Linked DNA regions of Homo sapiens. The protein of the gene in region 1 purifies or fractionates together with the protein of each later gene. This does not show direct contact. Each region holds a gene or a part of one and is shown on either strand. Other genes may lie near its edges.

Region 1 (3,500 bases):
AACTATTTCAGGCCTACGGAAAAAAATCCAGAACCTCAGGGCCTACGACATTAATCCCTCTCCAAAACAAGGTCACCAATATGTATACACAAATATATACATATAACTACCTCAGCCTTTAGGAAAATGGGCTGGTCATTTTTGAGGGAAGTGGAAGGGAGTTAAGCAATGCCCATCTACGTGCTTGCTTCAAAGTACCAAAATTTAGCCTTAGATAATAAATCATATTAGAAATTGTAATAGTTTCACTTTCTAAGTACTAAACTGTATATAATAGAATTATATATAATTTTGCTTCTATGAGAAGTGACAGTCTTCTAAGATATGAGTTAGTATGTACACCGTAATGCTTATCAGCTCATTTGTCCAGGAACTTATCCAGACAAAAACCTAGAATAACACAAAAATATCTGAGCTGCCAATATAGGTTTCACAAACTACATGCACAAAGCTTCTTGCATGTTACTATCAAAGGATGTATTTAAGCCCTCAATTTGTGGAGTACAGCAGAAAAAGCACTAGATTGAAATAACGTCAACCTAGGTTTGAAACTCACCATTTAGGCAGTCCTAAACTTCAGTTGCTCTTACATTGTTTACCAACACATATAGGTATTAACACACAGAGGCAAGAAACAGGCTGATAGAGCTAGAACTACTGGGCTGCGAATGTTATCCTTTCAGGAAGAACTCCAGAGAATGAAGAAGAGGACCAAGAGGACAGAGCATGAAGCCTTTTATTTTCAGGCTTTGAAACCTAATGAATTTACTCTGCTGGGTTTGGAACATGTTTGAGAACAATGACCCCTTTTTACTTCGAACTTCTTTTTGGAATGGGAATGTCTATCCTATGCCTCTCCTACCACTGATTTTTAGAAGACTTGTTTTCTGCTTTCACAAGTCCACAGATGAGAGGAATTTTGCCCCAAGAAGGATCATACTCCAGTTTCACACATAGCTGATTTAGATGATTGAGATGAGATCTGCCACTTTTTGGGTTGATGATATTAACACTTACATGAGATTTAGAGTTAATGCTGGAATGGGCTGAGAATTGCTAATGCTGGGATGGGGTGAATTTACTTTGTATGTTAGATGGATATAAATTTTGCAGGGGGCCAGAGAATGGACTCTACTGGGTTGAAGGGTGTCTCCTGAAATTCATGTCCACCCAGAACCTTAGAATGTGACCTTATTTGGAAATAGAGTCTTTATAGATGTAATCAAGTTAAGATCAGGTCATACCTAATTAAAGTGAGCCCTGAATCCAATGCCTGGTTTCCTTACAAGGAGAGACAGACACACAGAGAGGAGACAGAAAAGGTCATTTGAAGGTGAAGGCAAAAATTGGAGTGATGCAACTGCAAGCCAAGGACTGCTAGGAATGAGCAGAAACTAGGAAGAAGCAAGGAAGGATTCTTTCTTAGAACCTTCAGAGAGACCATGGCCCTGCTGACACCTTAACTTCCAGCCTTCCAGAACTTACAGAAGAGCTTTCGGTCACTTTAAGACACCATGTTTGAGGTACTTTGTTAAGCAGCCTGAAGAAACTAATATACACATGGATACAATTTAAATTATACATAAGCACACACATTCGCGTACCCTTCGGAGTTTTAATTCTATGTCCCTGCAGTCAAATGTTCAAATGCTGGTCCATCACTTCTTAGCTAGAGATTGAGGATCCCTAATCTGAAAACCTGAAATCCAAAATGCTATAAAACTCAAAGCTTTTTGAGCATCAAAATTATACTCAAAGGAAAAACTCAGTGGAGCACTGTGGATTTCCCACTAGGGATACTCAACCTGTGGGTTATTTATTTAACATTTACTTAACATCTCTATGGCTGTTTCTCAAACTGTAAAATTGGGACAAAGAATTGGGCAGATTAAGAATAAACATGTAAAATGCCTGGAACTATCAAGTACTTAATAAATATTAGCTCTGAGGTTGTTGTCAAAGTCATGGTTAAATGTGTATCTTCTTTTGTCAACTGTTTTTATAAAGTCCTTCCTATATTCATCAAGTAAGGCTTAAGTGGTTTTCCCATCGATATTTAGAGGGGCATTTCATATCTTAACAACATTAACCTTTGTCTGTCAAATTTGCCACCAATATATTCTCTGGTTTGTGAAAGATGATTTAATATGAAATCATATCTGTTGACTTAGTGGTTTATTATTTTAAGCTTCAAAAGCCATCTTTCAGAAGTTTGCTCAAATATACAATTACATTGTGTTCTAGTAAGTGTTAATAAAACTGGCCAGGCGCAGTGGCTCACGCCTGTAATCCCAGCACTTTGGGAGGCCGAGGCGGGTAGATCACGAGGTCAGGAGATCAAGACCACCCTGGCTAACACAGTGAAACCCCATCTCTACTAAAAATACAAAAAATTAGCCGGGCGTCGTGGCAAGTGCCTGTAGTCCCAGCTACTCTGGAGGCTGAGGCAGGAGAATGGTGTGAACCCAGGAGGCGGAGCTTGCAGTAAGCCAAGATCACGCCACTGCACTCCAGCCTGGGCAACAGAGCAAGACTGTCTCAAAAAAAAACAAACAAACCAAAAGTGTTAATAAAACTTTAATTTTGTTATAGTGTGAGGCAATGACTTTCTGATAATATCACTCATAAAAAATGGTAAATGGGCTACAATTTTTCTTTTTGTTAGTTCTGTAAATTACATCCAATACAGAATTTCCCAAACATTAATATGTCTATCAGCTGGGAATATTGTTTAAATATGGAAACCCGGCCAGGTGTGATGGCTCACGCCTGTAATCCCAGCACTTTGGGAGGCCAAGGCGGGCAGTTCACCTGAGGTCAGAAGTTCGAGACCAGCCTGGCCAACGTGGTGAAACTCCGTCTCTACTAAAAATACCAGGTGGCGGGTGCCTGGAATCCCAGCTACACTGGAGGCTGAGGCAAAAGAATTGCTTGAACCCAGGAGGCAGAGCTTGCAGTGAGCCAAGCACCAATGTACTCCAGCCTGGGCGACAGAGCCAGACTCTGTCTCAAAAAAAAAAAAGATTCTGCTATATATATTTTTCTATGATGTGATATTGGCTGGGCACAGTGGCTCACACCTCACGCCTGTAATCCTAGCACTTGGGAGGCTGAGGCAGGCAGATCACTTGAGCCCAGGAGTTCAATACTAGCCTAGGCAACATGGAGAAACCCTGTCTCTATTATAATATTAAATATATATATATTCTAAGTCCCTTCAGGTTCATATAGACCTAACTAATTCTTTTATTACAGCTAATAATTATCTGCAGAATGCATCCACCATTAATTTATTTAACCAATTTCTATTAGCAGCATTCAGGTTTTGTTGTTATTCATAAATATTTTGGATAGAGTACTATAAACAAGATCGCTAAATCAAAGACTATGTGTATTTTCAATTTTAACATTATTTTCCAAAAAGCCTGTAGCAATTTCTAGTGTTTCCATCTATATGATTGTTCTTTTCCGACATTTTCACAAGCTCTAAGTGTTTTTTT
Region 2 (3,500 bases), on another chromosome or scaffold:
TACTTGCTCTTAGATTCCCCACCAGAGGGCTCTGCTGTTGAAGCTGTTTACTCAGCAGGAATATGCCTATGTGATCAACAAAATATTTTTTATTTTTCATAGAGATGAGGTCTTACTATATTTATTGCTCAGGCTGGTCTCAAACTCCTAAACTCAAGCAATCCTCCTGTCTTGGCCTCCCAGTGTTAGGATTATGGTTGGGAGCAACTGTGCCTGGCCAAAGAACAAAATATTTTTAAAAACCCAGTTGAGATTACACTTTGGGCTCTCTTATTCCAAAGTGTTCTGTGCACACATCAGTAGTTCCTGATTCAAGGGAGAGTATGTCCTCTCATGGCCCTTATATAGACAGGAAATAGGAGGTTGGACCTGGCCTTCCCAGACAGGCAGCCTGTGGCTGTAATGACACCCTTACTTCAGTGCTGCTGTGATAGTGTACTGTTTTACTGCAATAAACTGCAGATTTGTGATCACTCTCACTTGGGGTCCTGTGAGTCTTCTTCAGCAAATGAACCCTGTTTAACTTCCACCATTATTGCTGTTAGTACTCCCTCTACAGGAAACCTAGGTAGAACATGGCATTGCTTGGTGTGGTGGGAAAAGCGGAGGGTTTGAAATCAGATTAAACTTAGTTATAGCTTCTCTCTAGTTGGTTTTAAGACCTCTGATTCTTAGTTTCCTCACCTAAATGAACTGGGTTATGGCCGGGCACAGTGGCTGATGCCTGTAATCCCAGCAGTTTGGGAGGCCAAGGCAGGCAGATCACTTGAGGTCAGGAGTTTGAGACCAGCCTAGCCAACATGGTGAAACCCCATCTCTACAAAAAATTTTAAAAATTAGCAGGGTGTGGCAGCGTGTACCTGTAATCCCAGCTACTCGGGAGGCTGAGGCAGGAGAATCGCTTGAACCTCGGAGGTGGAGGCTGCAGTGAGTTGAGATCGTGCCACCTCACTGCAGCCTGGGTGAAAGAGCGAGGCTCTGTCTCAAAAAAAAAAAAAAAAAAAACCAAAAGAACTGGGTTGGTAGTATCTACCTCCCAGGGCCCCTGTAAGGATTAAATGGGATAATGCATATATATGTCTAAAGCCTTAAGCATGTCAAATGCACTTCATGAAGGTAAGTAATAACACAAGTGAATATAAGTTTTTCTGGAAATAATGCAAATAGAAAAGGAGAAAAAGAGGCCGGGCACAGTGGATCACCCCTGTAATCCCAATCCCAGCACTTTGGGAGGCCGAGACGGGCGGATCATCTGAGGTCAAGAGTTCGAGACCAGATTGACCAACATGGTGAAACCCCATCTCTACTAAAAATACAAAATTAGCTGGGCGTGGTGGCGCACGCCTGTAATCCTAGCAACTCTGGAGGCTGAGGCAGGAGAATTGCTTGAACGCGGGAGGCGAAGGTTGCAGTGAGCCAAGATCGCGCCACTGTACTCCAGCCTGGGCAACAAGAGTGAAACTCCATCTCAAAAAAAAAAAAGAAAAGGAGAAAAAGAAAGTTCAAAGACTAGGTTTTCACAAACAGACAATATTAGAAATGCAATGATGAAGGAAAAATGGTGAACAGGAATTCTCAAAAATAAGTACCTGGGGATGGGCTGTCTGGCCAGAAACAGAACTTCTCATGGGCAGTACACAAGGCTTTCTTCAGCTCAGCACATCGTTGCTTATCTGAAATCCACATAAACAGCAACACCTTAAAAAACACTATATAGATTCAAAATCCAATGAATGGCCTCTAAGAGCAGAGATTTAACTAAAAATAAGAGAATTTTAAAATGTGAAAATATTATCAAGTACATAATCTTAATATTTTTCACAAAACAGGTTTTAAATTGAGATCCTAAGATCAACAAAGGAGATACCATGTATCTTATTTTTATTTTTTATTTTTTTGAGACAGAGTCTTGCTCTGTCGCCCAGGCTTGAGTGTAGTGGTGCAATCTCGGCTCATTGCAACCTCCATCTCCCAGGCCCAAGCGATGCTCCTGCCTCAGCCACCTGAGTAGTGTTTTGTATTTTTAGTAGAAATGGGGTTTCACCATGTTAGTCAGGCTGGTCTCAAACTCCCAACCTCATGTGATCCACCCACTTCAGCCTCCCAAAATGCTGGGATTACACACGTGAGCCACTGCGCCCGGCCCCCATGTATCTTATAAAGCAGAGCATTCCAAAGTGTGAGACTTCATAAAAGTCCTTTGTCACTCTTCGTCTAGAAGTATACATTTTGGAATAATAAAGTAAACATGCTGCTGTTACCTAGATTACATTAAGTCAAGTCCATGCTGCAGTAGCTAGCTTAGTTTAAAAAAAAAAAAAAAAAAAAAAAAAAAAAAGGCCGGGCACGGTGGCTCACGCCTGTAATCCCAGCACTTTGGGAGGCTGAGGCGGGTGGATCACAAGGTCAGGAGATCAAGACCATCCTGGCTAACACGGTGAAACCCCGTCTCTACTAAAAATACAAAAAATTAGCCAGGCGTGGTAGCAGGCACCTGTAGTCCCAGCTACTTGGGAGGCTGAGGCAGGAGAATGGTGTGAACCCAGGAGGCGGAGCTTACAGTGAGCCAAGATCGCACCACTGCACTCCATCCAGCCTGGGGGACAGAGCGAGACTCCGTCTCAAAAAAAAAAAAAAAAAAAAAAGACTGGCCAGGCACTATGGCTTACCCCTGTAATCTCTGCACTTTAGGAGGCCAAGGTGGGCGGATCACTTGAGCTCAGGAGTTCAAGACTAGCCTGAGCAACCTGGTAAAACCCCACCTCTACAAAAAAAAAACAAAAATTAGCCAGGTGTAGTGGCACTGCGCCTGTAGTCCCAGCTACTTGGGAGGCTGAGGAAGGATCGCTTGAGCCCAGGAGGTTGAGGCTGTGGTGAGTTGTAATTGCACTATTACATCTTGCTCAGCCTGGGCAACAAGCAAGACCCCATCTCAAAAAAAAAAAAAAAGATTAAAAAAAAAGATTGAAGTACGCATTTTTTGATCAAACTAAAATGACCTTTTTTCCCCCCCCAGAAAACCAGGATAGTATATATTTGAGTGTGGAGAAAAATGTAATTTGTACCTTATACTTACATCTGTCAAAGTCAAAAGCTGGTTGTAAACTGGCACAGAGAAAAGCTTGACAGCTAGAGCACTTGAGCATATCACATTCCACTGTGACCCAGCCATATTTTGCACAGACGAGTGGAGACAGCTCAAAGGGCTTACCTGCCCATTTCAAAGAGTATCCATGTTAAGAAAAACAACACAGCAAATATATATATATATGTGTGTGTATGTGTGTGTGTGTGTGTGTGTGTATACACATACTGTTTTTTTTTTGTTTTTGAGAAAAGTTCTCACTCTGTCTCCCAGGCTGGAGTGCAGTGGCACGATCTAAGCTCACTACAACCTCACCCTCTCAGGTTCAAGCAATTCTCCCACCTCAGCCTCCCAAGTTGCTGGGACCACAGGTGCACGCCACCACACCCAGCTAATTTTTGTATTTTTTGGTAGA

What was found. The genes of interacting proteins can lie anywhere in the genome.
Region 2: the proteins of AASDHPPT (region 1) and ZC3HC1 fractionate together in Homo sapiens (co-fractionation; one large-scale study listed by BioGRID). This does not show direct contact.

Annotation. Positions count from the first base shown.
Region 1 is NC_000011.10:106,084,162-106,087,661, reverse strand, and holds part of AASDHPPT (L-aminoadipate-semialdehyde dehydrogenase-phosphopantetheinyl transferase), read right to left. Parts: intron 1-3,500. UniProt on the Homo sapiens protein: Catalyzes the post-translational modification of target proteins by phosphopantetheine.
Region 2 is NC_000007.14:130,037,875-130,041,374, forward strand, and holds part of ZC3HC1 (zinc finger C3HC-type protein 1), read right to left. Parts: intron 3,228-3,500; coding exon 3,077-3,227; intron 1,674-3,076; coding exon 1,590-1,673; intron 1-1,589. UniProt on the Homo sapiens protein: Required for proper positioning of a substantial amount of TPR at the nuclear basket (NB) through interaction with TPR.